Linked DNA regions of Homo sapiens: all the other regions are linked to region 1. The links come from fine-mapping of genetic effects on gene expression. A gene starts in region 1. Each other region holds a variant in brackets. All regions are shown on one strand. Distances are between the middles of the regions. Region 1 holds the start of VEPH1 (ventricular zone expressed PH domain containing 1). Region 2 has its middle 59 kb from the start of VEPH1. Region 3 overlaps VEPH1 (ventricular zone expressed PH domain containing 1). Region 4 overlaps VEPH1 (ventricular zone expressed PH domain containing 1).

Region 1 (7,641 bases):
GGCTGGGCTGTGTTCTCATGTGGAAGCTTGTCTGGGGATCTTCCAAGTTCACTAAGGTTGTTGGAAGAATTCATTCATTTGTGTCTGAAGGACTGAGGGCCCTGGCTTCTTGCTGGTTGTTGGCTGCAGGCCACCTTTAGCTCCTAGACTCTACTCATAGTTCTTTGTCATGTGGGCTTTCTCAACATGGCCCATTACTCCATCAATCCAGCAAGGAGACTCTCTAGAGGAAGTTTGCCAGCAATATGGAGCCTTAGCAATATAAGGCAATCACAGGAATAGCATTTTATCATCTTACTTCATTCTATTCATTAGAAGCAAGTCACAAGTCTCACCTATACTCAAGTGGGAAAAATTACACAAGGGGGAAATAAACACCGGAAAGTGGATCATCGAGGGCCACCTTGGGATCTATCCAGAATGTTAAGGACACAGAATAGATAAGACCCAGAGAGTCACTGGATGTGGGTAAGAAAAGGAAGGGGAGAAATACAGGATGACACTCAGCTTTCCTGTTTGTATACTTGGTAGATGGTGAGGGCCCTCACCAAAATAAACACGGAAGGAGGAGCTAGTTTGGGAGAATAATGAGTCTTCTTTAATTTGGGAGCATGTTTTATCAAAATGTTCTTTATTATAATGAAAAAAAATGAATAAACCTTAGCCATAGGGCCCTATTCCTGTTCTTAAAGAAACTTGACTCTTGGCCGGGTGCAGTGGCTCATGCCTGTAATTCCAACACTTTGGGAGGCTGAGGCTGGTGGATCACTTGAGGTCAGAAGTTTGAGATCAGCCTGGCCAACATGGCGAAACCCTGTCTCTACTAAAATACAAACAAACTAAAAAAAAAAAAAAAAAAAAATTAGCCGGGTGTGGTGGTGTGCGCCTGTAATTCCAGCTACTAGGGAGGCTGAGGTGGGAGAATTGCTTGAACCCAGGAGGCAGAGGTTGCAGTGAGCCAAGATCGCACCACTGCACTTCAGCCTGGGCAATAGGGCGAGACTTCTTCTCAAAAAAAAAAAGAAAGAAAGAAAGAAAGAAAGAAAGAAAGAAACTTGACTGTCATAGTTCATGCCACATGCTATTTTGCTGAGCCAAAAGGGAGTTCCTGGCTGTGTCTGAGTTTTTGTGCCTGCAATGGACTCTTCAAAGCTGGAAGGCTGACCATAGAAATGGTGTGCTTACAGGAGCTTTCATGATTACAGGTAAGAAAAACTGTTTATAGAAAATGAAATCATTCAGAAGTTCTCAGTGTTTATATGTAACTCACCTATGTAAGTTGCCTTAGAATTTACCTCTTTTCTGTAAAGAAAACGTCTTTGTCTGATTTTGTGGTTACAGACAATGTTTTATTTCAAGTTTCCCAAAGGAGGGGAAGGAGTGAGAGTTAGACAAGAACAGAGGGGAAAAATAAAGACAAAGCAATACTCTGTAAAACTGATTACTCAAATACATTTTTGACAAACAGGTGTAATATCTGGTTGCTGTTGCCATTCTGCCACCAAGAAACCTGATGACTTCATTTGGGCCTCTTCAACCAGCTGCCCCTAAAGCTAGCAAGCTCCACCCTTCAGTGTCCACTGATAAATTCCTTAATAGCGTAAGTGATTTTAGGAAATTTTTGAAAATTGTGTATGAATGGATGGATTCCATGACAAGGGTATTGAGGTCAAATGGTATGTGGCTAGGTACTGCCAGGCAAGTCTAAGAGATTAAATTTAATTATTTTGGGGGACTCAAGTATTGAGGAAATGACTATGTAGCTGGTTAGGAAAAAATAATTTAGAAGGTCCTGTTTTCAGGTACACTGAATGACTACATTCCTTTCCAGGCCTTTCTTGCATCTGCTAGTTGTCAGAGGAAGCCTGTGGTTGTCACTGAAGGAGCCCATTTGTCATAGATAGTTCCTGTTGAGTCTCTTAGTCCACTTAATTTTCAATGAGCTGCACCCAGGAGAGACTTCCCACAAAACTAGGTTAGGCTGATTCTGTCAGGTGGAAATTTTTTAATGGTAAATGGCAGAAAACCCAATCTAAAATCACTTAAGCTATTAAGGAATTTATTAGTGTACACTGAAGGGTAGGTCTTGCTAGCATTAGGGGCAGGTGGTTTAAGGGGCCCAAATGAAGTCAACAGTTTTCTTGGTGGCAAGAGGGCAATAGCAGCCAGACCTTACACCTTCTTATCATCAAGTCCAGCAGCTTAGACTTTTTACTCCCAAAGCTGAGCTTTCATCATTGTCCTCTCATTGGCCTAGAAGGGGTCGCACACCTGCCCTGCATTAGTCACTATGATCACAGGAATGCAATTACTCTAATTTGGGTAAGACCAATTAAGGCCCATCCTGTTTATGGGCATCAGCTGTACCCAAAGGACATGGTTTCCCAAGGGAAATTTGGGTGCAGTTTTGACTAAAAGTAGAGTAAGTGAATGTTGAGTGTCAAACACAAGAGAAAGTAATCTTCACCCCATGAGTAGTCCTTTTAATTGGACTAGTAATTTTTTTACATGCAGCATGATTGCCACTGAATGGAAATATTTTTATTTCCACTTGTACATCTTACACCTGACTTTCCCCACTGCAGCCCCCGCCCCCACCCTCCCTGTTACCCTCACATGGTTTGACTGAAAGTTCCGGTCGGGAGAGACTCAGAAATGTTTTATCACTTTATGTGAAGGCAAAACCTCAGATCAATAAGGGAAGAAAGCCCATGCCATACACTTAAAGGGAGAGAAGAGCCTCTAGATATAATAATCCACTGGGCACCACCAATTAATTTATGCATTAGAGGTTTTAAAGTGCATTCTCCTTAAAAGAGAGAGAGAGATGAGGCGATGTGGGAGTGCTTGTGAGGGATCCCCAATGAATTAGGTTTGAAAAGATGAGTTCTATATTTGGATGGTAAAAGGAAGGAGTTAGAAATTTGAGTGGATGCAAGAAGGAACCATGAGGGTTCAGAAAAATCTCTAGTGCTACCAGGGAAGTTTCATTAAGTTGTTGTGTGTTTCGTAAGCAATACCAATAGTATAATTAGACTTTTGCTCCTTTACCCTAGCTATTTTGCTTCTCTTGTGGTATTTTTCTTCTATCATATTTGGCTTAAATACCATTTCATTCCAGTGCTTCCCTTCCTGCATTCCCTCCCCAAGCCTTTTTCCTGATGCCTGCTAAAAGGCCCCACATCTGATATTAACCTAAAACTTCCTTGATTTCTTAAAGTGAGTTATTCATTAACAGAACCTAAATTACTGGTTGTTAGGCAAATCTAATTCTTTCAAACTACAGATCTGCTCAGAGAAATCTGTAAATCTAGTGTAGAAATAAGTGAAGCTTTGCGTCAATTGTTAGGTCTAAGCAGAAGTTTGGGAGAGAGAAGAAAAGTTACTCATTTGCCTGATTCCGCACGGTGAGTCAATGGGGAGGGAATGAAATGTACCACTGGCTTGACAGGCAGCTCAGGGAGACGCGGCTGCAGCCCACAGGACTGGGCAGCAGCTGCAAGGCTGCCTCTGAGCATGGTCATGGGTCCCAGCTGCAGTGCTCTAAAGATCAAGGATTTTGCCTTCTATTTTCTATGACCAGAGATTCCTGTGCAAAGAGGTATGGCTATCTTCTTTCATGACCTTTTGTTCAGCAAAAACAAAAGCTAATTAAAGTAAATGTCAGAGGCTGCAAAGAAGCAAAGAGTGGGGGATAGGAGAATGGAGCTGAGAAACTTCCAGGGGCTGGCTGATTATGCAGATAAAGCACATTTGGGAGCTGTGTGTCTAGCCATGTATGCAGGCATTTCGGTTATTAGAGTAAAAATGCCACTTCTCTGTGGGTTATTAAAACATGTCTCTAGGCCTCAGGAGCAGAAAGCTGTGCTTCTAGATTCATATCATGTGCATTTTTGTTTTACTCCGTAATAATCTAGTCTCATTTCTATTTTATACTTTTGTTTACTTCAATCAACATTTTGCAACCAGCAAAGAAACTGGCTCTGCCTACGGATTTTCAAAGAAAATTAAATATTATAGCATCATTACAGTCAGTGGGTTGAACAGGGTCACCATTACTGTTTGTTGCTGCTGCCGTTTTTTCCTTTGGTGTTTCAGATATCTTACAAATCATAATTAAATCTAACCACTTTTTTACTCTTTCAGATACACACTTAAATTGTTGTAGTAATCAACCATTGGATTAAATGACATTTATATATTTTTGATTTAAAAAGCAGAAAAAAATATTTAGAGAAATATTTGAGTTGGTCATATAGATATTTGGTACATGAAACTTAAATGTAAATGAAGATACATTTAACATTGAGTTTTCCATGTAGTTTGAGAGTTTTGGTACATTTTCTGGAAGAACAAACCCACGAATTTGAATTAGGATTTTTCAGCAAGATTTGTATTATTCCAGAGCAAAAATGACCAACAAAGTCAACATTTACAGGTGAAAATGAATACACTATAAAATTATGACAAGTCACAAAAGCCTTGATTTTAGAAAGTTTATTAGACTTGAAGATAAGTGTTTCTCATCCTTTTTGAAGGAAATGTTTCCTATTTGTGTTTTAATAAGTTGAAATAGGTAATCAAAATTAAGTAGTTTTTTGGGCTCTTGACTAAATAGGTCACCAAATCTATTTTTTTCATGTACTTATGAAATAAGCCTGCTACAAACTTAGATCGTATGTACTCTAGCAAAAAGACAGGGCTGAAGCCTTTAGCATTGCTTAGAATAAGCCAGACTCAGAGGCTTTCAGTAGAAGTGAAGTGTAGCAGCACGCCACAGCCAAGGAAGCCCAGAGACATCCAGGGAACAATAGACATCTTGTGGGAAGGGCTGAAATGTATGCAGCCAATTCCCATGGGAACGCCTGTAGTCCTTTCACGCTGTGTGAAAAAGATGCTCCTTCAAAAGAATCTGTAATCCTTTCTTTCAAGGGAAAAATCTGAGAACTTTATTGAAAGTTTCTAGAGCCCAAATGGGTCTAAGTTTGTTAATGAGCATTTTTAATACAGGTGAATAAAATGAAAATGTTTTGATGCAGAGTAATGTAGTCTAAAGCGTAATGTAAATAAATATTGTCATTCTAGAATTTTCTGAAGTGAGGAAGCCAGGGTATACCCTAACCTAAGTTGCAAGCTAGAGGCTGAATTCTTCAGAATAAGTTGGTTTCTTGAGTTAATTATGGTGATTGAAATCTCCCCCAAGAGTTTCAATTATTCTATAGGCAGTATCCCAATAGTGTGGCGATTAAGTCCTCCAGTTCATGTATATTTTCATTTAGCAGAATCTACAGATGCATAATAGAGTAAGCCACTAATGTTTTATTAGTGGGCATTGAGTGTACGTCACCTTGAAAAGTAGTAAAGAAAGTAGCTGGAGCCCTGGAGGGCCACTCCTTTCTCACTAATAAACACGGGAAGGAGTGCTACACTTCCATGGAAAACTCAGGTGTTTGGATTACCCAGCCACAAAAAGTTTGAGATACATTGTATTCTAGCCCATTTCTGCTCTGTAAAAACATTCACTGTTATTGTTCAACCTTGGTGTGGGTAGGATCACCGTAAAACTATCTCTCCAGGAAACAAGATAAGGTTGCCAAAAAATCAACAGGGACCCATTCAAGAGAATGAAGTTTACAGATGAAAAGTGAACAACCCAGAGGTAAGGACAGGATGACTAAGATAGAGAAAGGACAACAAAGATATAAATATGGCTCAAATGGAAACAACCTAAACATCTTTAGCTCTGTGAACCCAATTTAGTGAACAGTACAGTCATGTATTAATTTTTAAAAGGTATGGCATGGGGATGTGTTAACTGGTGGACCATCTATAGGAATAATAGTACTCTTAAGGATATGATTGCTGGCACTTTTTCTGTGGTTGCCATATGCCAGGCTCTGTGTTAAATGTTTTATATCATCTCCTTAAACCTCCCAACAACCCATATCACAATCCTCAGGAGCAAAGGAGGAATTCCAGGCTCAGGGAGTCTAATTAACCTGCCCACATTTACACTGCAGGTAATGGCATAGCTGAGCTTGGAATCCAGTTGAGTCTAGATTCCCATACTCTTATCACTCTGCTCTTCTTACTGGAGTTCCATAGAGTGTCCAATTCAGGACTCTACACCCTTTAAAAAAATAAAACTGGATAAAAATCTAGGGATTAAAAATCAGTAATAATGAATAGAGGATTAAAAGGGAAGGCTAAAGCAATATCATCTATTCCATTAAAAGACGAAACTTCATTAGTATATTGTAAATTAGAAAAACTACTAATGAAAAAATACAGCTACTCATGAATGACTGGATTCTTGATTTTTATAAAGGAATTCTTCAAGGGGATAGTTCTCCAAATGTGGATGGCATAAAAATATGATTGATCACCAACTGTCTAGGCAGATTTACGAGGTCGTTCTCCTGGAACATATGACCTGGTTTAACTGTGGCCACCCTGACCACACCCTTTGAGTAGACACACCCTAGTGAGCACAAAGATGAGATTATCTGCAGGATAGCTGCCTGTACACATTGCCAGAAGTGAGATGATTTGATATAGCTATAGATCTACCACAGGAACAGACGACTTAGGGGTCGAGAAGAATGCAGTCTTAAAAACCTTGCTTTTTAAAGTGCACTGTTAACTGTTTAAAGAATAAAGGAAGGTTCCAGTGCCCTTTTCTCCATCGGAGTGTCAGTAGATTAAGCAGGATAAACCTTTTGCCTGAGTGTTGCTGCAATATTTAAAAGTACAAATCCAATATTTCTGGTCCACGTGGATTTCTATGAATAGCTTCCCAGCAAATAACGAAAAAAAGAGAGTACGTATGTTGTGAAGTTTGTTCTGTTTATTAGCAACTTCCCGCATACTTCAACTTTCAACAATTTTACTCTAGAGGCAGAGTAAAGGGATACTTTCTTTAGGAGGTGACTCTTACTGGACGAACACTCAGTGTTTCCAAAACGTTTGTGAGATCTCAGGGAGAGGGAAGTGTTAATGAAGCTGCAGTTCTCTTCTCCTCCCCTGGAGCTCTGAGAGGTGGCTCCCTACAGCCATTCCGTTCACCTGCTTGAGTTCTGTTGAAAATTGTTTCCTGCGTGGCTCGCCCCCGCCCCCCATTCTTCCCTGGGAAAGTATAGATTTTCACGAACACAGGGAGTTCTGTTTTCTCTGTTAAAAACAACTCTCCTTTACTGGAGCAGGCTTTGTGTTTCACCTCAGGAAACAGAGCGTTGCACTGGGAGGTAACTCCGCTGGGTGAGGTGCAGCCTGTCACCTGACCGGTCTCTGGGGCTGCCGGTGGCATCAGGCTGCATTCCTTGAATTCTTCCACCCGGCACCGGCTCCGCAATGAACAACTTCAGGTTCACTGAGCTGAGCGGATTCCACTCGCTGTGCCCTCGGAGCCTGCCTGAATCTCCCGCCCAGTCTCAAACCATGCAGCTGAGTAACTGCAAGGGCGCCTTTGAGGAGTAGCACGCAGGTAAAGTCGAGTTTGCGCGGGACAGCTGTGACTCCCTGAAATGTGCCACGTTTTGCGCCATCATTTCTGTTTTTGTGGTTTCTGTTTCTCCCTACAGAAAGCTGATTCGCCAGCAAATACCTGCCAAAAAAAAAAAAAAAAACTAAATAATGAGAAGG
Region 2 (7,641 bases), 59 kb before region 1:
TCGGTAACCAAAAACTTGCCAACAAAGAAAAGCCCAAGACCAGAAGGATTCACTGGAGAATTCTATTAAACACTTAAAAAGTTAATGCCAATCCTTCTCAAACTCTTGTGGAAAAAAGCATTATCCCAAGTGAAATAAAGCAGTCACAAAAGCACAAATACTGCATGATTCTACTTATATGAGGTATCTAAACTAGTTAAACTCATAGAAGCAAATTGTCAAATGGTGGTTACAAGGGTGTGAGGAGGGGGAAGTGGAAAATTGCTGTGCAATGGATATAGAGTTTCAGCAATGCAAGATGGAAAAGTTCTAGAGATATGCTGTACAACAATGCACATATAGTTAAAAATACTTTACACTTAAAAATGTATTAATAGGGCTAATTTTATGTGAGGTGATTTTTACAACAAAAAAAATAAATAAAACATTGTGAGAGTGAGAAACAGAAATTATAGTTCAGAGTTCTAAAGAGGAGGAAGCTCCAAAAAAGAACTCCAGAAATCTGCACATAGGTTACCTGTGCCTTTGGCTGAATAGGAAGGCAAAGTAGGGCAAAACTCCTTTAAGTCAGGCAAAAAACAACTACCAGGGAGAGAAAAGCTACCGGGGTACTATTAACAGAAAAACTACTACGGCTCACACAGGACTAAGAGACATTTGAGTTCTGAACAGGCAGGGGAAAGAGATTATTTAGAAGACAAGAAACATTCATAAAGCACCCAAAAAGACTGTGCCTTCAGAGTAAGGGTAAACAAGCTGTAGAGGCTATGCTAGACCCACTGTAACACAGTTTAAAAACAAGCCTTAAAATTATCAAACTTATTTTCAAATAAGGTAGCTGCTTGCCCAAGTAAACACCAATACTCTTAAAGTTTTCAAGGAAGACTGTCACATTGTTGAGCATAATGTCCAGCATCCAACTGAATATTGAAGACATGCAAAGAAGCAGGAAAATGTGTCCAATAATGAAGAAAAACAAATTAGTCAATAGAAACAGACACCAAAATGATAGAGATGTTGAAATTAGCATGCATTTAATTGTTATAGATATATTCCATATGTTGAAGAAGCTACAAGAAAACATGAACATTGATATGGTTTGGCTCTGTGTTCCCACCCAAATCTCATCTTGAATTGTACTCCCATAATTCCCACATGTTGTGGGAAGGACCTGGTGGGAGATAAGTTGAATCACGGGGACGGTTTCCCCCATACTGTTCTCACGGTAGTGAATAAGTCTCAAGAGATCTGATGGTTTGATCAGGGGTTTCCACTTTTGCATCTTCCTCATTTTCTCTTGGCGCTGCCATGTAAGAAGTGCCTTTCACCTCCCACCATGATTCTGAGGCCTTTCCAGCCATGTGAAACTGTAAGTACAATTAAACCTCTTTTTCTTCCCAGCCTTGGGTATGTATTCATCAGCAGTGTGAAATTGGACTAATACAGGAAATTGGTACCAGTAGAATGGGACATTGCTGAAAATATACCCAAAAATGTGGAAGCAACTTTGGAACTGGGTAACAGGCAGAGATTGGAACAGTTTGGAAGGGTCAGAAGAAAAACAGCAAGATGTGGGAAAGTTTGGAGCATCCTAGAGACGTGTTGAATGGTTTTAACCAAAATGCTGATAGTGATACGGGCAATAAGGTCCAGGCTGAGGTGGTTTCAGATGGAGATGAGGAACTTTTTGGGAACTGGAGCAAAGGTGACTCTTGTTCTGTTTTAGCAAAGAGACTGGCAGCATTTTGCCCCTGCCCTAGAGATTTGTGGAGCTTTGAACTTGAGAGAGATGATTTAGGGTATCTGGAGGAAGAAATTCTAAGCAGCAAAGCATTCAAGAGATGACTTAGGTGCTGTTAAAGGCATTCGGTTTTATAAGGGAAGCAGAGCATAAAAGTTCAGAAAATGTGCAGCCTAACAATGTGATATAAAAGAAAAATCCAGCTGGGCATGGTGGCTCACACCTGTAATCCCTGCACTTTGGGAGGCCAATGTGGGTGGATCACCTGAGGTCAGGAGTTTGAGACCAGCCTGGCCAACATGATGAAATCCCGTGTCTACTAAAAATAAAAAAATTAGCCAGGTGGCGTGGTGGTGGGCGCCTGTAATACCAGCTACTCAGGAGGCTGAGGCAGGAGAATCCCTTGAACCCGGGAGGCAGAGGTTGCAGTGAGCCGAGATCGTGCCACCACTGAACTCCAGCCTGGGCAATAAGAGCAAAACTCGGTCTTAAAAAAAAAAAAGGAAAGAAGAAAAATCCATTTTCTAAGGAGAAATTCAAGCCAGCTACAGAAATTTGCATAAGTAATGAGGAGCCAAATGTTAATCCCCAAGACAGTGGGAAAAATGTCTCCAGGGCATGTCAGAGATCTTCACAGCAGCACTTCCCATCACAGGCCTGGAGGCCTAGGAGAAAATGGTTTCCTGGGCCAGGGCCAGGGTCCCTGTGCTGTGTGTGGCCTAGGGACTTGGCGCCCTGCATCCCAGGCACTCCAGCCATGGCTGAAAGGGCCAACGTAGAGCTCAGGCTGTGGCTTCAGTGGGTGGAAGCCACAAGCTTTGGAAGCTTCCACATAGTATTGAACCTGAGAGTGCACAGAAGTCAAGAATTGGGGTTTGGGAACCTCCACGTAGATTTCAGAACATGGAAACTCCTGGATGCCCAGGTGGAAGTTTGTTTCAGGGGCAGGACGCTCATGGAGAACCTCTGCTAGGGCAGTGCAGAAGGGAAATGTGGGGTCAGAGCCCCCACACAGAGTCCCTGTTGGGATACTGCCTAGTGGAGCTGTGAGAAAAGGGTCACCATCCTCCAGATGCCAGAATGTTAGATCCACTGACAGCTTGCACCGTTTGCCTGGAAAAGTCACAGACATTCAACACCAGCCTGTGAAAACAGCTGGGAGGAAGGCTTTACCCCGCTAAGCCACAAGGGCGGAGCTGCCCAAGACCATGGGAACCCACCTTTTGCATCAGTGTGACCTGGATGTGAGATGTGGAGTCAAAGGAGATCATTTTGGAGCTTTAATATTTGTCTGCCCTGCTGGATTTCGGACTTGCATGGGCCCTGTAACCACTTGGTTTTGGCCAATTTCTCCCATTTGGAACAGCCGTATTTACCTAATACCTGTATCCCCCATTGTATCTAGGAAGTAACTAGCTTGCTTTTGACTTTACAGGCTCATAGGTGGAGGGGACTTGCTTTAGATGAAACTTTGAACTGTGGACTTTTAGGTTAATGCTGAAATGAGTTGAGACTTCGGGAGATTGTTGGGAAGGCATGATTGGTATTGAAATGTGAGGACGTGAGATTTGGATGGGGCCAGGGTGGAATTATATGGTTTAGCTCTGTGTCCCACCCAAATCTCATCTTGAATTGTACTCCCATAATTCCCACATGTTGTGAGAGGGACCCAGTGAGAGATAATTTGAATCATGGGGGCAGTTTCCCCCACACTGTTCTTGCAGTAGTGAATAAGTCTTGTGAGATCTGATGGTTTTATCAGGGGTTTCTGCTTGTGTATCTTCCTCATTTTCTCTTGCTGCCACCATGTAAGAAGTGCCTTTCACCTCCCACCATGATTCTGAGGCCTCCCCAGCCATGTGGAACTTTAAATACAGTTAAACCTGTTTTTCTTCCCAGTCTTGGGTATGTCTTTATCAGCAACATGAAAAAGGACTAATACAAACATGGTAAAAAAAAAAAAAAAAAAAAAGTTAAAAGTAAGATTTTGTAAAAAGTGTACCATAAAATACAAATCATAAGAAAAATAAGTTGGCTATAATACTCAGAAAAAGTAGACTTCAGAACAATAAATATTACTAAAGAAAAAAGAGACATTTTATAATGATAAAGAAGTCAACTCCTCAAGAAGACATAGCAATACTAATTGTCTATGCACCTAACATAGAAACTTGAAATATATGAAGCAAAACTGAAAGAATTAAAAGGGGAAATAAGACAAATCCAGTACTATATTCAGGATTTCAATTCTTCTCTCTCAGTGATTGATGGAACAGTGCTGTTAGCTAACTTCTT[A/G]TTGACTCAGCAAGGATGTCTTCTTAACAAACAGTAGTGTAGAGAAGGCACAAAAAAACCCTATCAACCAGCTTGATCTAATTGACATTTATAGAACATTACACACATTATAATGTTCAGAGGATACATTCATTTCAAGTAAATGGAACATTCATCAAGAGAAATCACATGATAGGGCATAAAACTAGTTTCAATAAATTTAAAGTATCACAATAATACAGATTATGTTTTTTGGCCACAACAAAAATAAATGAGAAAGAAATAACAAAAGATATTTGGGACATCTGCTTTCAACAGTGATAAGTTGGGATTACATTCACCGTCATGCCTGAAATCACAAAATGGACAAAATATATGAAACAATGATTTAGGGGCATTGGACATCAGGCAATGAAGAACAGAGAACCCAGAGAAACCTCAAACAAAGGAGGTGAATGAACCCTATGATTACCCTAACTTATTGCCTGGAGAGAGTCTTAAGGTTGTGTTACAAATATTGGAAAGCCAGGATGTCAGGAGATCGCCCTGAGGAGAAAGAACTGGGAGTTCAGGGAGGCCACAGAGCTAGAGTTTGCAGAATAGAGTACCAGCAAGGATAGAACTGCACAAAGAGAGACCTCTGGACAATCCCTCTCAAATCATCAACTAAATACTTATCAGTATATCCATGTAAAGGAACTACCTAAGATCAAGAGGAAAAACATCCTAAAAGATTAGAAGGAAAACTCTCTGGATCTCCAGCAGAGCCAGGACTAGTGCCTGTTTTCACTATTCAGACTGGAAAAACTAATAACTCACAACACATTGGGTAGAGTACTAAGAAAAGTTTTGCCTTAATAGTGAGGCAAAATTAGGCCCATACAAAAAACTGCTCCCTGTAACATCAGGAACAAGGTGAGGAAATCTGGTCTCACCACTTCTATTTAACATGGTAACAGAGGTTGGAGTCAGGGCAATAACACACAAAAAAAAAGAAATTAAAGACAAACAGAATGTAAGGAAGATGTAAACTGTCTTTGTTCACAGACAATGGGTTTGTTTCTCTCTGAAGGAAAACTTACAGAATCTATGAAAACACTACTAGAACTAACAAGTCAGTTTAGTATATTGCAGGGTACAAGATCAATATATAAAAATCAAATTTTATTTTTACACACCAGCAACAAATAATTGAAAATTGAAATTAAAGTATCAATATCTCTTACAATAGCATGATTACAAATGTCAATCCACAAATTCAAGAACCAAAAAACTGCAAGCAGTAAAATAAAAGAAAACCATACTAAGGCATATCAAAATCACAATGCTACAACCCAGTAATAAAAATAATAATGAGAAAAAATCTTAAAAGCTGCCAGGAAAAATAACAACAAAAAATAACCCAGATACTTTATACACAGAGAAACTTCCATCCATACTTCATACTCTATACAAAAATTAATTCCAAATACCTCACAGGCCAAATGTAAAATCTAAAACTATGAAACATCTAGAAAAAAAACACAGAGTAATAAATTTGTGATGCTGAATTAGGCAAAGATTTCTTGGGTAAGACACCAAAGCACAATGTAAAAGAAAAAAAAGATAAATTGGCCTTCACTAAAACTAAGAACATCTGCTCTTTGAAATACTTTCAACAGAGGGAAAAGACAAGCCATAAGTTGGGAGAGAATATTTGAATAATCCCATATTTAATTAAGAACTTGTAGCCAGAATATATAAAGGGCTCTTAAAACTCAATAATAAAAAAAAATTGTAAAATGAGCCAAAAATTTGAACAGATACTTCACCAAAGACATATGGATAGCAAATGAATGTAAAAATAAGCTCAACATCATATAACATTATAGAAATGCAAATTAAAGCCACAATGAGATACAACTACCCACCTCTTATGATGTCTAAAATTAAAGACTGATCATACCAACTCTTGGTGAGGATTTGGAACATATGACACTCATACCCAACTGATGGAGTGTAAAATGTTTCAAGTATTCAGAAAAAAGGCTGGCTTAAAAATATAAATAAATAAAGCAGGCTGGGCATGGTGGCTCACGCCTGTAATCCCAGCACTTTGGGAGGCGAAGGTGGGTGGATCACTTGAAGCCAAAAGTTCAAGACCAGCCTGGCCAACATGGCGAAACACTGTCTCTATTAAAATTACAAAAATTAGCTGGGCTGGTGGCACATGCATGTAATCCCAGCTACTCAGGAGTCTGAGACACAAGAATCTCTTGAACCCAGGAGGCAGAGGTTGCAGTGAGCTGCGATCATGTCACTGCACTCCAGCCTGGCTGGGCAACAGAATGAGACTCTGACTCAAACAAAAAAAAAAAAAAGGCTAAACATATATATACTTACCTTATGATCTGGCAATTCCACTTGTAGGAATTTACCCAAAAGAAATAAAAACATACCAACCACAGATTTGTACACAGATGTTCATCAAAGCTTTATTCATAATTGCCAAAAATTGGAAACAACACAAATAGATAGCTGAGTAAAAAAATTGTGTCTTAGTCATACAATGGAATCTGTTTAGGATTAAAAAGGAATGGATTACTGATGTATCAACAAATTGGACAAATCTCACATACTGTGAAAGAAGCTAGCCTTCAAAAAGTAAGCACATACTTGATTTATAAATGTTTTAGTATAAGAAAAACTAATATATGGTGTGAGAAAAAAAGATCAGTGTTTGTCCGGCTAGGAGTTCAAGGTGGTAGTATGACTGAAAAGGAGCACAAAGAAACTTTTCAGGTGAATAGAAATGTTCTATATTTTGATTGAGGTGGTTGTTACATGAAATTGTATATATGTCAAAATTTATTGACATGCATTTAAATTGGGTGCATTTTAGTACATGAGAATCATTCCTAAGTAGATTTTTAAAAATTGAGGTAAAATTTACATAATGTAAAGTTAGCCATTTTAAAGTGTACAACTTACTGGTTTCCTGTACATTCATGACGATGGGCAACTATATTCTTTATCTAGTTCCAAAATATTTTCACCATCTAAAAGAAATTCCATGCCCATTAAGTAGTAATACCTAATTCCCCATCTTACTGCCCCTGGCAACCACCAATCTGTTTTCTATCTCTATGGATTTACTTATTCTGAATATTTCATATAAATAAAGTCATATACTATGGGACATTTTGTGTCTGGCTTCTTTCACTTAGCATAATGCTGATAAGGTTCATCTACATTGTAGCATGTATCAACACTTCATTCTTTTTTATAGCAGAATAATATCCCGTTGTATGCATACACAACAATTTGTTTATCCATCATCTGTTGCTGAACATTTAGGTTGTTTCCACCTTTTGGCTATGGTGAATAGTGTTGCTGTGGACATGTATGTACATAGATTTGTTTGAACACCTATTTTAAATTCTTTGGCATTTATATCCAGGAGTGGAATTGTTGGGTCATATGGTAAACCTACTTATTTTTATGAGGAACAATCAAAATGTTTTCCAAAGTCGCTAAACCATTTTTCATTTCCACCAGCCAAATAGTAGAGTTTCCAGTTTCCCCACATTTTTGTCCACACTTGCTACTTTCCATTTTTTAAAATTATAGTCTTCCTAGTGGATGTG
Region 3 (7,641 bases), 71 kb after region 1:
CCACCACACCCAGTTAATTTTTGTATTTTTAGTAGAGACAGGGTTTCACCATGTTAGCCAGGCTGGTCTCGAACTCCTGACCTCAGGCGATCCACCCGCCTTCGCCTCCCAAATTGCTAGGATTACAGACGTGAGCCACCTCACCCGGCCTATGACAAACAACACAGTACAACTGGGTAAACCTAGAATGGGGAAAAAAAGCTGGGGGAAAAAAGGAATATACTTATTTAGTTATTTAGGTATGTTTCTTTTCATAACTTGGTATTATGTGGACATTATATTATTCTACAAGGTTTCGAGGCAAGGATCATGTTTTAAAAGTAAACTTAGAGATTTCTGCTTCTAACAATATATACAGGTCTGTGTTCACATGATATTAATAAAAACTTAAAAGGTACAGATGAGCTCCCATTAAAGTAAGGGGAAAATCCCGGAGCCAAAGATAGAGAGGAAAGCAAAAACAACAATCCCATGAGCTGATGCTAGGGCCCCTCTGGCATAGGAGTGAAGTGAGATAGGGGTTATTAGTTCTATAACCACCAAATGTTGATGACCATGTGGAAGCAAAGCTTAGGCCAAAGGTGGAGAGTTAGAAGGGAGATCCTCATGAAAGCCAGGACCCTCACAGGGTTACCTACTGTATTTCAGTAGGTACAATCCCACTCTGCCCTAGCACAAAGAGGTAGGAAGCAATCATGTCTCTCTTTGAACTCTACAAGGTCCCTTTGAGTTTGTGAAATTGGGCCTGCCCTCAGATATGTTTAGAATTCAAATATATACTATCTGCCACTGTGAAAACAAAAAAGAATTCACAATGATATTTGAACATATGAGGAAGCAAACCACTATAAATGAGAATCAGCAGAAACCAAAAAGGATTAGACACCTCTCCCCAAGAACTGCATTTAGTTGAAATATCAGCCAAAAAACTAGAAAATAAATATGTTTAAAACTACTGAAGCTCTAAAAGAAGGAATTGGAAATATGAGAAAAGAATAAGACATTGTCAAAAAGAAAAAGGCTAGGTGATTTTTTTTAAAGAACCAAATAAAACTTCTAGAATTAAAAAAAAAAGTTAATTGAAAATTTTAAAAGCTCAAGGCATGGATTAAGTGGCAAATTAGGCAAAGCTGAAAAGAATATTAATGAACTGGAAGACAGATATAAGGAAATAATCTAAAATGTGCTGCTTTTATGTTCAGTAATAGGATTCTAAAATCATTTCATTGTTCAGGAGGACGAAAAAGAAATTAATTAATTTTGCTTTGCTCAAAAATATTTGTTATAAGTTTAAGGACAACTACCAAATGGACATAGGCATCCGAATAGAAGGTGCAGGGGGAATTTTTAAAGAAAGACTTGATCTATGAAAAAAAAATTAATGAAGGAGGAAAGAAAAGCACAGAGAAGGATAAGTTAAAAGTACAATATTATTTGCTAAAATTAAATCAAAATATACCAATAATTACCATAAATATTAATGAAACACATTTTCCAGTTAAGAGACAAATATTTCTATTTGTCATATAGAAATATTTTAGTCGGGGCTCACGTTCAGAATCCCAGTACTTTGGGAGGCCAAAGTAGGAGGATCACTTGAAGCCAGGAGTTTGAGACCAGCCTGATCAACATAGCAAGACCCTCATCTGCACAAAAAATTTAAAAATTAATCTGGTGTGGTGATATGCACCTGTAGTCTCAGCTACTCAGGAGGCTGAGGCAGGAGGATCACTTGAGCCTGGGAAGTGGAGGCTGCAGTGAGCTGTGATCACACCACTGCGTTCCAGCCTGGGCGACAGAAAGAGACCCTGAAAAAAAGAAAAGGAGAGAGAGAGAGAAGAAATATTTTAAAAATCCAGCTATACATCACTTACAAAAGCTATGCATAAAACATAAAGTAGAAATGTTAAAAGTTAAAAGCTTTAAATTGGAGGGGAGGAAGAGAACACACCAAGCAAGTATTATTCAAAAAAGCTAGCATAGCAGTAGTAATATCAGTAAAAAATAGACTTAGGCAAAAGAGGATAGTTAAATTATGATACAAAGAAATACTTTAACAGGAAGATATCTCTGAATTATCTAGTAATATAGTTTCAAAAAATATAAACCAAAGGTTGACAGAATTATAAGGAGAAATGGGCAAATCCATAATCATGGAGGGAGATTTTAACAAAGCTGATAAGTTCACATATATCATAACTGATCATTCAAATGCGAAAAAAAAGCCTGCCAAAGGATACAGAAACTTAAACTACATAACTTAAAGCTTGATATAATGAAGTATATAGAGTACTGCCCAGATGGTTTGATGGACAAGTTCTACCAAACATTCAAGGAACACATAATCCCCGTTTTGTACAAACTGCTTCTGAGAATAGAGTGTTCAGGAATGTGCTAAATTCATTTTACATGTCTACTAAGTATGATACCAAAAAGAGAAAAGGACAATACAAGAAAGGAAAACTGCAATCTCTCTCATTAAGAATGTTGATGCAACAGCTCTAAATAAAGTATTAGCCAAACACAGCAATATGCATAAAAATACACATTATGCACAGCAATGTGCATAAAAATATATCATAAGCAAGTTGAGTTTATTCCAAGACTGCAAGATTGATTAAATGTTAGAATAGCTGTTAACTTATTACATTAACAGTTTAAAGGAGAAGAATCATCATATCAATAGATGAGAAGAATGTTTGATAAAATTCAGCACTCAAAATAATCAAACTAGAAAGCAGACAGGAACTTACTTAAACTGAAAAAAACATAAATACCAAAACCTATAGAAACAGATACATATGTAATTGTAAATCCTTGGAAACATACTTTTGAAAAGCAGGATTAACACAAGGATACCCGTGGACAGTGACTCTATTCATCAAAGTGTGTATTGGAAGTCCCTGCCCATAAAGTAGGACATAAGGACATAAGGAGAAGAAACATAAGGATTAGGATGGAAAGAAATGAAGTTGTTATTATTTATCATGAGTGGATCATCTACATAAAGAAAAATCTAAGAGACTCAAAAGACATATTAATAAGAACTGAGCAACTTTTGTTGGATATAAGATCAACATACAAAAATCTATTGCTTTATTAATACCAGCAGATAAATTGAAAATGCCTTTGCAAATAAAGTTTTCATTTACAGTAGCAAAAATAGCTATGGGATACCTAAGCAACAATTTAACATAAGACAAAGCTAATTATAACACCTTATTTAAAAACATAAAAAGATCTACATAGACAGAAAGATAAATTATCTCCTTAAATGAGAAGACTCAGTTTTACGAAGATGTCAGTTATGCCAAATTAGTCAATATGTTCAATATGAAAAAGAAGTCCCAGTCTGGTTTTTCAAGGATGTTGACAGACTGATACTAAAATTTGTATAGAGTAGCCAAGAAGAGCTTGAAGAAGTAGGAGGTCAGGAAGTAGGTCCTATGGGATATAATGATTTATTATAAAATTATTGTAATTAAGAAAATGTAGACTTGATGAAGAGATGGATAAATGCCCAGAAACAGACCCAAACACATATGGAAAACCTAATATATGAAAGAGGTGTGGCAAATCAGAAGAGTAACAATTGACTACTCAATAGAAAAAATTATTTGTATACAAAGAAAAACATATAATTAAACTTCTTCCTCCTATGTACCAAAGTCATTTCCAGACAGATTGAAGACAACTACAAGAAAGCAAAACCATAATGCCTTTAAGAGAAAATATAGGAGAATATTTTTATGACCCTGGAATACAGAAAAATTTCTAACAAAAAAACCTAAACCATGAAGTAAAAAAATGAAAACAGTTGACTATATTAAGAATATAATTTTAAATCAATA[A/T]ATCAAAAATTCATTCAGTAGCTCAGAATAATTAAGGAACTTCTAAAAATTAATAAGAAAAAATGGCAACATCCTAATAGCATATAGGCAAAGAATGTGAATGGCCAAATCACAAGTGAGGAAATCACCTATAAATATATGAAAAGGGCTGGGTGTGGTGGCTCACGCCTGTAATCCCAGCACTTTGAGAGGCTGAGGCGGGCAGATCACAAGGTCAGGAGTTTGAGACCAGCCTGGCCAACATAGTGAAACTCCATCTCTACTAAAAATACAAAAAAATTAGCTGGGTGTGTTGGCAGGCACCTGTAATCCCAGCTATTTGGGAGGCTGAGGCAGGAGAATCACTTGAACCCATGAAGCGGAGGTTGCAGTGAGCCAAGATCACGCCACTGCACTCCAGCCCAGACAACAGTGTGAGACTCCATCTCAGAAACAATTATATATATATGTATATATATAATTTGTTATATATAATATATAACAAGTAATTGGGAAATGAAAATTAAAGCAAAAATATTAGATACATCCCATCAGATTAGCAAACACTGATGTCTGTCACAACCAAATGTTGGCAAGAATGTGGACCAACAGAAACACTCATGCTGCTGGTGGGAGTAGATTGTCATAATCTTGGTGGTAGGCAGAATACTGGTCCCCCAAAGATGTCCATGTTCTAATCCCCGGAACCTGTGAACATGTTATGTAATATGCATTTCAGATAGAATTAAGGTTGCTAAATAAGATAGGGAGATAATCCTAGATTATTCAGTTAAACCCAATACAATCACAAGGGTCCTTAAAAGTGGAAAAGGGAAGCAGAAGAGAGAATCAAGGGGAGAGATGAGATGAAGGAACAGGGATCAGAGAGATGCCATGTTGCTGGCTGTGAAGATGGAGAAAGGGGCCACAAACCAAGAAATTCAGGCAGCCTCTAAAAGCTGGATGTATCTGTCTGTTTTCACACTGCTATAAAGATACTACCTGAGACTGGGTAATTTATGGAGAAAAGAGGTTTAATTGACTCAGTTCCACGTGGCTGAGGAGGCCTCAGGAAACTTACAATCCTGGCGGAAAGCAAAGGGGAAACAAGGCACGTCTTACATGGCAGCAGGAGTGAGGGAGAGTACAGCGGAAACTGCCACTTTTAAACCATCAGATCTCATGAGAACTCCCTCACTATCATGAAAACAGCATGGATAAAACTACCCTTATGATCCAACCTCCTCCCACCAGGTCCCTCCCTTGACACGTGAGGATTACAATTCAAGATGAGATTTAGGTGGGGACACGGAGCCAAAGCATATCACTGGTTAAGCCAAGGAAACAAATTCTCTCCTAGAGCATCCAGGAAGGAACCCAGCCCTGGGCACACATTGATTTTAACTTAGGGAGACTTATGTCAGACTTCTGAACTACAGAAATATAAGATAATAAATTTGTGTTATTTTAGGCCACTAATTTTGAGATAATTTCTAATAACAGCTATAGAAAATGAATACAACTGCTTCACAAAGAAATTTTGGAACATCTACAAAGTCAACTCCTAGGGACATACTCAGTGCTTTGCCACTTAACTAACTATTTGGTCAATGGACCATCAGTGTCACCTGAGAGCTTGTTAGAAATTCAGACGCTCAAACCCTACCTCCAACCTGTTGAATCAACATCTGTGTTTTAAAGATATGCCCAGGTGACTTCTAAGCACATTAGACTCAGAAGCACTACCCTAAGAAATATCTCTCATTTTTGCACAAAGAGACAGTTATTTCAGCATTATTGATTAAGGCAATGAATAATAATGACAACATAATGTCTTTCAATCACAGAGAGTATATGAATAAGTTGTTGCATATTTATACACTGGAATAACACATGGCTGTGAGAGTAAATGAAGGAGAGCTTCTTGGAGATATAACTCCTACAAAATGTTGAATAGGAAAAAAATATGTTGCGAAGGGATGTGTAGAGTATGATGGTATTCACATAAAATTTTAAAGCATCCAAAACAATACTATATAATGTTTATTGATACATACGCATGTAATTAAAGTGTAAAAATACTTATGGAGATCATAAATACTCCCTTTAGGATGATGGTTGCCTCTGGGGAGAAAAGGAAACAAATGGGATGAAAAGCAATTATCATATAAGGTTAAGTTTTGACAAATCTGGTTGGTAGGCACACCAATGTTCCTTATATTATTGCCTACATTTGTTTGATGACTTGAACTATTTCATAATTTAAAAGAAGGTATTATTGACTAATGGAATTTATAAGATTTCTGCAAAAGTTCTGCATTTGTTTTTTGTATTATTTGATTGAAATTCAAGTCAGCTGAAAAATGACTAATCTGGGGTTTTTCCCTTCAAGGCTCCCAGGGCCTCTGTAGTGAGTTTTGTACCGAAATGCCATGCAACAGTTTCCTGTCTTAGACTGCAACTACAGTCCCTTTTAATGTGACCATTTTTAGCAGTTGATCAGTATGTCCTCATAACTAAGTTCTATAATCTAACTTGGGCTTTACAAATTGGGTATTGCATTAAAAAATTCCTGATCTTTTAAGGAGACGCTCATAGTAAAATAAACAGAAAACAAAACAAATTGTTGAAAATTAAACTATTGAAAATAAATACTGACGAACACAACCTTTTAAAAGAAAACTCTAAATATTTCCAACAACTTGTATTCTGGGGAACATGATAAAACCTGTTTTAGACTTATTCTATGAACTACATGTGGAAAAAACAATTCTCATTTTTTATTATCTCCCAAATTCATTCAATTCATTCAGTTTTATCCAGAATCACGCTTTCGTTAAATTTAGATATTGATATTCTGAAAATTCTGGCCTTCTTTCTTTAATGATCATATCTAAATTGTCTTTTATATATAGGCATGTTCCTACCATTTAATGAAGGTCCATATATGTGTAATTCCTTCTTATTTGATTCTTTCTGTGTATGGCTTCTATATACAAAGCCAAATTTAAAGTAAAAGTAGAGTCAAAAAAATTCTTGTTCAAAAAATCCCTAGAAACCAATTCCCCTGAGACATTTAAGTACTTGTGAGGATTTTGAGAAAAAAAATCTATACCATAGAGTGATAAGCAGATGTTGCCCATATGTTGATTGCAGATAAGTTTCTATACGTTATGTAATAGTTTTCTTGAGGTTTTGCCATTATAAATCTAGTTGTCTATACATATCTTTGAGGAAATTATGTGTGACAAATCAGCTGAGGCTAAACTTCCCTTGAAATAGTGCAGAAATTGGGGATTTAAATTTGCATTACTACTTCTTAAACTATTCATAAAATAAGGCATAGTTTCTGTATGTGAGTTGTCTAAATTATGATTCTGTGTCTTCCAGGAATGTGAATTCATTCCTTTGCACTTTTTTTGTTGTTCAGTTTCATTTAGGTCCATGATTACAGCACTGCTTAGTTTTCATTTAAACATCGTTTAAATTTTGTTTATCATCAGGAATTCTTTATTGGAACTGTTTCCTTCTCAAGGGTGTGGTCTGATTACTGTCAAAGTTCCTCTATCCCCATGGTGCATTACTTAGCAAAATTTTTCATTAGTTAATGGTGCTGATTATATCATAAAATATTTCCTTTTGTGGAATCGGATTAAATCACATTTTAATCTCAGAATAAGGTACCATGTTATTTTTAGCAAAAGAATTGGCCATCAGTCTGTGCTATTTAATGTGTAAGTGCAAATATTATTACATTGGTAATAATGTTATTTCTGTTGCTCATGGCCTGATAAAGTCATCATTCCCTTTA
Region 4 (7,641 bases), 97 kb after region 1:
CCATTTGAAATTTTTCTCTTTGACACCAAAGTGGTCCTGTCTGTTGGGTTTAGGGGTTCAAACTGTCAGATAATTTTATTTCCAGGATTTAAAAGATTTTGGAAATACAGAAAAGCCAATCCAACTTTGAGATCCTGCTCCAACTTTTGTAATGTACAATCTCTGACTGATCAGAGCATACTGACTGATCAGAGCATATAATATACAATCTATGACTTATCAGAGCATACCTCCTTTGTTTTCTGGTTTCCAGCAAACTCCATGGTTTGATCTTTAAGAAGAGCAGAGTCTCCTGTGGGTTTGCAATCTTCAGTCCAGAATTTGGCCATGGGGGTAGAGACGGCCTGGAATCACACAAGTTATTGATTGGCTTATGCCTCACCTTCTGTGCTTGCATAAAGCCAGGTGTAAGAACTGCAGGGCTGGCTACTGGGAAATGACAGGGTGTGCCTGTCTTTCAAATGAGTGCCCATCTGGGTGAGCAGACTGTTTTCAACAGCTTGATAGCAGCATCACAATTTTTCCATCTATATTACATTCGGCAGAGAAGAGTTGTATATATAAAACAAAAACCAAAATCCTACAGATTCTTATTTTCTCTATCTCCCAGATTAACTCAGAAATCTTTTTGCCCAAACTTAAATAAAGCCATGTTTAATAATCATATAGTGCTTGTGTCACTGTGGAGGCCATGAATGACTCACAGAACACTTCCAGGGTAGAGAAATTTGCTTCTGGGAGAACCGATCAATTGTTGCCCTTGAGGTGCACCTTTCAGTAAAGATCTATCCAGTTCTTTATAATGCCAGGATTTGCTCCATTTCTCTGGTATGCTCAGTTGAAGTAAATTCATAAATAAGAAATAGTATTTGATTAAATATGTCCAAAACACAGCAAAAATACATGGGTCATTTTGTCTTTCTCAAATGAGAAGGTTGCAGTGGAAACCTTTCAGACAAGAGCAGAAATGACTTCTTAGTAGCACCTAAGGGTTCATTCCCCAAACAACCATCCAGCAGTTTATATAAAACACTTAACACAGTTCCTGGCATATTAAAAAAAAATGCTTGATGGATTTCAACTAACAACAACAAAGTAACAGCAGCAATATAATAAACGAAACCTGTCTAGCTGGAGAGGCCAACGAGAGAGGGAAAAATACAAGTGTGAGTGTACTTCCTCACACAAAGTCTTCTGTGGTCTCATCCACTGCCTATGGGTTATTATGCAAACTCCTTGGCATGGCCCCAGCTTCCTTCTGTAGCTTCACCTCTTACCTGTCCAGTCTACTTCATTCCCCTACATTCTGACTACTCAGGATTTTACACCCTTCCCTGCACACCCTTTACTCTGACATACGTTGAGACCTTCACAGCTTATTCTGCCTGGATAGCTTTTACCCTCTTCTCCTACTTATCTTACCTGACCCAGCTCAAATGTTGCCTCTTCTGTGAGTTCTTCCCAGTCCCCTTAGGCAAAGTTAGTCACTCCCAGTCTATACTTCCATAGTAATTTGGTTGTACCTTAAATGTGTCATGGTTGTATCTCAATTATGTCGTGTTGCAATTTGCAGGTTAATGTCTTTTTCTCCTCCCTATACCTCTCAGCTTCCAGGGGAAATAAATATTATCAAATCCATCTGAATTCATCTGTGGCCATAAGACTGAATGAGTACTTGAGAATACTGGTAATTAAGAATTTGAGGGTTGATTTCTCACTTGAACTTTGATTCCATCAAGTCTGTCTACTTATTCTAGATGACATAATTATAACTTAAGAGAGAGGAGGAGGAAATATTAGTGTGGAGAGGGCTGTATACTTCTGAGCTTATACAATCTATCTCTGATATCTAGCAGGTGAAAGATGAGAATAAAGTTGACAGGGGAATATGGAGTCATTATACAACAAACATGTGATGAGCCAAGGCCATCCATAATGGCTGCTAGGAGGTGACATAAATGAAAGATGATACTGAGTAGATTATAAAGAGATTTTCATATACGAGGCCTCAGCAGGCTGCAAATTGGTTGAAGTACAGCTCCAAGAAGGAGCACTCACCACTGTAGACTGAGCAGTGATCACCACCAAGGAACTCTCTGTGCAAGAATCCATTACATGAATGGATTTGCTTACGATGAGGGCAAAAGTAACACGGTGACTAAGAGGGTGTGCTTAGAGTCAGCCTGCCTTGATTTCAGTCCTGACTCAGCCACTCACCAGCTATGGGCAACTTACATCACCTCTCTTGACTCAGTTTCCTCATCTGTAAAATGGGAATATTATTCACCTCTTAGGTTTGTTGTGAGGATTTAATGAGTTAACCCATGTGGAACAGTATTTAGCAAATAGTAAACATTTGATAAATGCCAGCACTTTATTACTTTACTCAGCATTGTCCAAGTCTTTCTCATTGCACTTATTTGTATACAGGCTAAAACTTGACCCTAACAGACTGAAATTAGGGAGGTGAAAACTAGGGAAATGGCTTACCTTGCCTCTGCTTCTCCAAGGAAAGCAGCTGAATGGGTAGGCATATGTGGGACCAGTCAAAATCAGGAGACAGAATTGGAATGAGGCACCGTAGACAACCACATGTACATTAAAGGTGGAAAGCATAGCTGGCTACACAATTTTTCTTTTTTAGGAAATAACTGGTGTATGTAAATTTTTATTCCTCGGGGTGGAATGTATATCTGTTTTACATTTGTATCGCAGACCACCATTCGTGGGAGAAATAAGGATAACAAAAATAATAAACCTCATTTTGTAAACCTTCATAATTTAAAATAGGCCTTGTTTTCTTGGGCCACTGGAAGTACATTGCTTTCCATAAAGGGTAGGTGGTCCCCACCTCCCCAGCTATATAAACAGCTCAAATAAGTTTGCAGCAATTTTTTAAAAACTCTTAAACTAAATATGAAGTGGTTTAAGTTAAACCCAAACTAGGTTGATGTTTCTCGTCCACAGAGGACCAAAATAGAATGTTTGTTTCCACTTTAGAGGGTTTTACTTTTTCATTATTTCCTTCCCTAATTAGACTCTCTTAGCCACGCAAGTGGTCTCTGCTCACTTGTTAGGTATTATCGTTATTATAGCCCTCTTTCCTAACATGGGTCAACTTGGAAAAGAGAACACTTTAGGAATGGCATTGATTTTTTTTTTTTTTTTGGGAGGCCAACTTGAATTCATGTATCTTTCCATCTATTTAAGCCTCAAATAAGTGAACTGAAACAAATTTTAGTTTAATAGTCATCTTTACTTTACTTTAGGGTCTGGTCTTATTGGAAAGCACATACCAGTATGTAGCATGCACTTCATTACCATGCCCCTCCTCTGTGCCAGACCTACAAGGCAGTAGACCTAGTGGTAGAAACAGAGACAAGATGCTTTAAAATTTTTTTTACAAATGATCTCATAGCACGTGGAAGGATGCTATGGCCACTTGTTTTTCCTTCACTACAGACCAATAGCCCGCATCTGTGAAGAATCAAATAGCATGCCCCTGAGTGCAGCCACTGCCATCGTGTGTGTTAAATCCTGTGCCCTCTGCCTTGTTTTTCTAACTAGCTGGAATATGCTGGCCAAGCACCAGGGCGTGTTCATTACATCCTCTCTGGGCTCAGAGTCATGGACACTTTTCAAGTAAAGAAGTGACACACATCTTGCCCAGGTTGCATTTCTGTGACATCCGGCAGGCCTACAAAAACACTTTCAGGAGGAAAAGGAAAAGAATGACAAAGGCAGCTGAGAGCCACATTACTGTCCTCATCCTGGCTGTTGAATAACATCCTGAGAAATGGGAGCTGGGTGGATGATTTACACCTTTAAATTACAAATCAAGACTAAAAAAAATCTGGGGTCCGTTCTACAAGAGGAAGGACCTGTGACTTAAAAGCACAATTTCCCCAGGGATGATAAACTTAGTTAAAACATTGGTAGGTTCAATGACTTTGGGGATACATTTTCTTAAACCTTGGTTGGTGCCAGTGGCTGCTACTTAATATTATAAAACTGTCATGAATTGGGGAAGGATTTTTTTCCAAAATGAAAATAGCTTTTATTTTTGTTTGTATTGTTAAAAAGGGTACATGTTAACTGTAAATAATATTAGTAATAAACCTCTTACAAAGTATAAGGAAAACAAAGGCAAACTTTGAGTACATACAAAATATACTTTCAAATAAGAGTATTGATGTTGCATATCCTCTCTCCCTCAGTGATATAGGGTGGAGCTGCTGATTCTTTCTAACTGTAAGACCCAGTACTGGTGATG[G/A]GGACACAGAGGAGAGAAAGACATGGTCCCTGCCCTAGAGGATCTCACAACTGGGGATGAGGAAGATGTAAAGACAGATAATTGGAATTTAATTTGGTACTTGCTGTTACTGAATTTTGAACTGGACCAGGAAGGAAGAAACTAACCCCATGTGGGGGAGTTTTAGGAGAGCATTATAAGTTTGGCTTGTAAGATGATAGGGTTATGTCAGGGGAATAGGAAGAAGGTATCCATGGGGAAGTCACCGCATTCAGTGGCAGTCAGCCAGGAAAAGGCTGTGAGTCTTCTAGAAACCATGAAGCATTTCAAGTGCTTGGAGCATAGGATGAATAATGGAGGGGAGGGGGAGAGATGCGGCTGGACAGTGGGCTGGGGTCAGATTATGAAAATTCCATATTGATTAGCAGATAGTTCCTGTTTTCTTCCTTCTCTCAGCTGATTCTAGGAACAGTACTTTATTTCCCTTCATAGTGCGGATAAGTAAATGTAATCCTATGTACCTTAGCGTTCCCAAGAAACTAAAGAGCTGGCGAAAGGACAAACAGTTCCCAAAATACTTGCAAATGTAGAGTAGTAAATAATGGTTACAAAAGTTACATGTTGCAAAAATTTTCAACAATGTCTTGTAATTATTAACTGTAATTTGGGCCAACTGACCAAATCCACAGAAGACCTGCAGTTCCCTGTGAGCTGGGACAGTTTGGCAAGTCCCATAACATGGCTGCACATAGAAGGAGTGTCTGCAAGACCAGGATCAAACTCCAGAAATCGGCAGCCTGGTCCCCGCAGACTTGATCTTCCTCCTTCCAGAGGAGGACGATCTGACTTTCCTACACTGGTGTCTGTGAGGGAAGTAGGTGCCTGCCTCAAGAAAGACAGGAAGCCACCACTTAGTAAGTGCCCTTTCTAGCCATGAGCCTAACAAGTGAACAAATCTCAGATTCACCAGAAAGGACAACTGGGCATTGGCAGCAGGTGAGTTGAAGAGGACGAAGCAGTTGCTAATTCCAGCTCAACTCCTGCTGCTCTTTTAAGATGATAGCAGGTCCTTGCCCTGCCTGTAGCCCTCAGACTGAAATCACTTGACTTCCAACTATTTCCAACAGCCAGTATTTGCATTTCTTTGCCTATGGCTTCCCCAACTTCACAAGCCATTCTGCTAAGACACATGGCGTATGCATGTGAGGAATGAATGCTGTCCCATGGCATCCTACAACCAGTGATGGGAGTTGGTGTTTTGTAAACTTCCAAAACTCCTTTACCCCTCAAATGAAATAAACTCTCCCTAGAATTTCCCAGGCTACTTTTTGAGCTGTTTCCCTTCTCTTTCTCACTCTTCTGTTCCCCTATTGGTTTCCTGAAGTTTTCAAATAAATGATTTGCACTTAAATCATCTCAGGGTCTGTCTGTTTCTGGAAACCCCAATCCAAGACAAAGACATTTCTAGGACTTTCCCAAGCCATTGCAATCTGCCCTGCTGTGAATATTTGAGAACATACATCTATAACACAGAGTTTAGCATCTGATGGTTTTCTGGTTGCATTTGCTTTTCATTTATTTAGTGCATGAATACACACACTCCCAACCCACCATAAGCACTCTGAAGGAAGGAACCATACCTTATACCTCCTCGTGGCCCTGGCATAACCCCCCCTCAAGTAATTAGCTCATAGCAGGTGGCTCACAGGTACTTGCCAACTAACTGTTCCATAGAGACTGAAACTTGGCTGACCATCAGTGTCTTGTACTAGTAGATGGCATCTGATGACATGGCAGGTTGTGTTTGAGGAGGTCAGGAAAACTAGAGACATTGGGTTCCAGTCAACAGTTATGGATACTGGTTTTTCAGGATCTGTCGGTCTCCATCCCATGTGGTCCCCAAAGTGTCCGGACCAGCAGCATTGAGTGTTACTCAGAAACTTAAATCAGAATCCATAATTGAACAAGATGCCCAGGTGGTGTGTATGCACATGAAAGTGTAAGTAGTACTGCTCCTGAGGATCCAGGCCCTACAGGATTTATCTGCTATAGAACCTGAGGGAGTCTAGACATGCCCGCATATATACTACCTGCTTGATGCATATATGTTTCCAGACACACACACAGCTATACCCAATTTTCTTTGCAAGACCCACTTGTTTTTATGTAAATAATCAGTAACCTTTAACAGTCATAATCTTTGACAATGTCAGTATATACATGAAGTCAGGAAATATCATGCATTACCTACAATACAGTTTATGAATATTTATCACACACCTGCTGTATGCAAGGCACTGTATGCAAGTGCAAAGTTAAATAAAATCCAATCCCTCTGCTATAAAAAGGGGCTTTTTTATTCACTTAGAAATGATACTTTACTCACTCGAGCCCAGGAGTTCAAGGCAGTGAGCTATGATTGTGCCACTATATTCCAGTATCACAATAAAATAAAAGAAAAAAAAGATCCTTTAATAGGCAAAAATTGTGATGCATTGACACTTTTGTGTAATATTCTTAGAATTCCTCACTCCATCCCCACTCCTGTATAAAGGGAGAGGGTGTTCCTAAATAATGGTTTACACGGAATATCACAGGTGGGTATGTACAAGTCTTTTCTATTGCTTAAGTTCTTGTTTTTATTTTTTAATGTTATTTGATTTTTTTTTGTAGCTCAAGTAGGATCTGAAAGCATTCCCAGAACTCCCTATAGGATTTGACACAGAGGTATTATCACTATGATGTAAAATCGTGTAACAATTGTACTCTCAAAATATATGAGGAGAGTAATTGGAAGTAGATGAATTTTGTTGCAAAGCCATGACTAACTATACTGTCTTGAAATTATATTTACATTTCAGCCTTCTTCATTATTTATCAAAAAAGTAAAGCCTGAATTTATTTTGTAGTGAGTAGGGCTTAGGAACTTGGTACTGGTTTACATGAACAGAGCTGAAGCCCTCTAAGAAAATATGCATCTAACAGTTGGCTTAGCAACAATACACTATCACACTAAAATGTTCACAGGTATAGATCATAATATTAACCAGATGGTTGCTGTCATCTACGTGTATTCATGTAGATAACATGTAAGAAATTACACTGAGAGGGTATCTTGACATCAGTTTATTTCTTGCTAAGTAATAAAGTAAATGAATAATTATTTATTGCTTTTTAAGATTAATAAATATGAGATAAATAGAAAATAAATGTTTCCATAACTGTTGATGAGTAAATGAAAGTGGTCTGGGTAATGTTTCCCAACCTTCAGTGCAGTATAGATCCTATAAAGGTCTAAACATCTAACAATTCACTCAGAAAAGTAGAAAATAAACCTTTCTAACCATCTTGCTTCATTGAAATCTCTATTTACTATGTGTGGTTGATTT

What was found. PIP is the estimated chance that this variant, and not a neighbour inherited with it, causes the effect. A credible set is the group of variants that fine-mapping cannot tell apart.
Region 2: its variant is the best candidate, but not a certain one, in a credible set for the expression of VEPH1 in fibroblasts (GTEx, PIP 0.86).
Region 3: its variant is the best candidate, but not a certain one, in a credible set for the expression of VEPH1 in testis (GTEx, PIP 0.53).
Region 4: its variant is the best candidate, but not a certain one, in a credible set for the expression of VEPH1 in testis (GTEx, PIP 0.78).

The regions. Positions count from the first base shown.
Region 1 is chr3:157,499,237-157,506,877 of GRCh38, reverse strand. VEPH1 (ventricular zone expressed PH domain containing 1) reads left to right here and starts at 3,462. Exons shown (of 14, transcript NM_001167912.2): 1 at 3,462-3,601. RefSeq lists a silencer at 3,435-3,669 and enhancers at 6,742-7,305, 7,306-7,641.
Region 2 is chr3:157,558,452-157,566,092 of GRCh38, reverse strand. It overlaps the pseudogene SLC66A1LP. Among named protein-coding and RNA genes, the nearest start is that of VEPH1, 59 kb to the right of the region's middle. The variant A/G (reference allele first, on the strand shown) is at 4,037.
Region 3 is chr3:157,428,504-157,436,144 of GRCh38, reverse strand. All of the region lies in intron 4 of VEPH1 (ventricular zone expressed PH domain containing 1), which reads left to right. Among named protein-coding and RNA genes, the nearest start is that of PTX3, 4.5 kb to the left of the region's middle. The variant A/T (reference allele first, on the strand shown) is at 3,852.
Region 4 is chr3:157,402,521-157,410,161 of GRCh38, reverse strand. The region is part of intron 6 of VEPH1 (ventricular zone expressed PH domain containing 1); the gene reads left to right. Among named protein-coding and RNA genes, the nearest start is that of PTX3, 31 kb to the left of the region's middle. The variant G/A (reference allele first, on the strand shown) is at 4,274.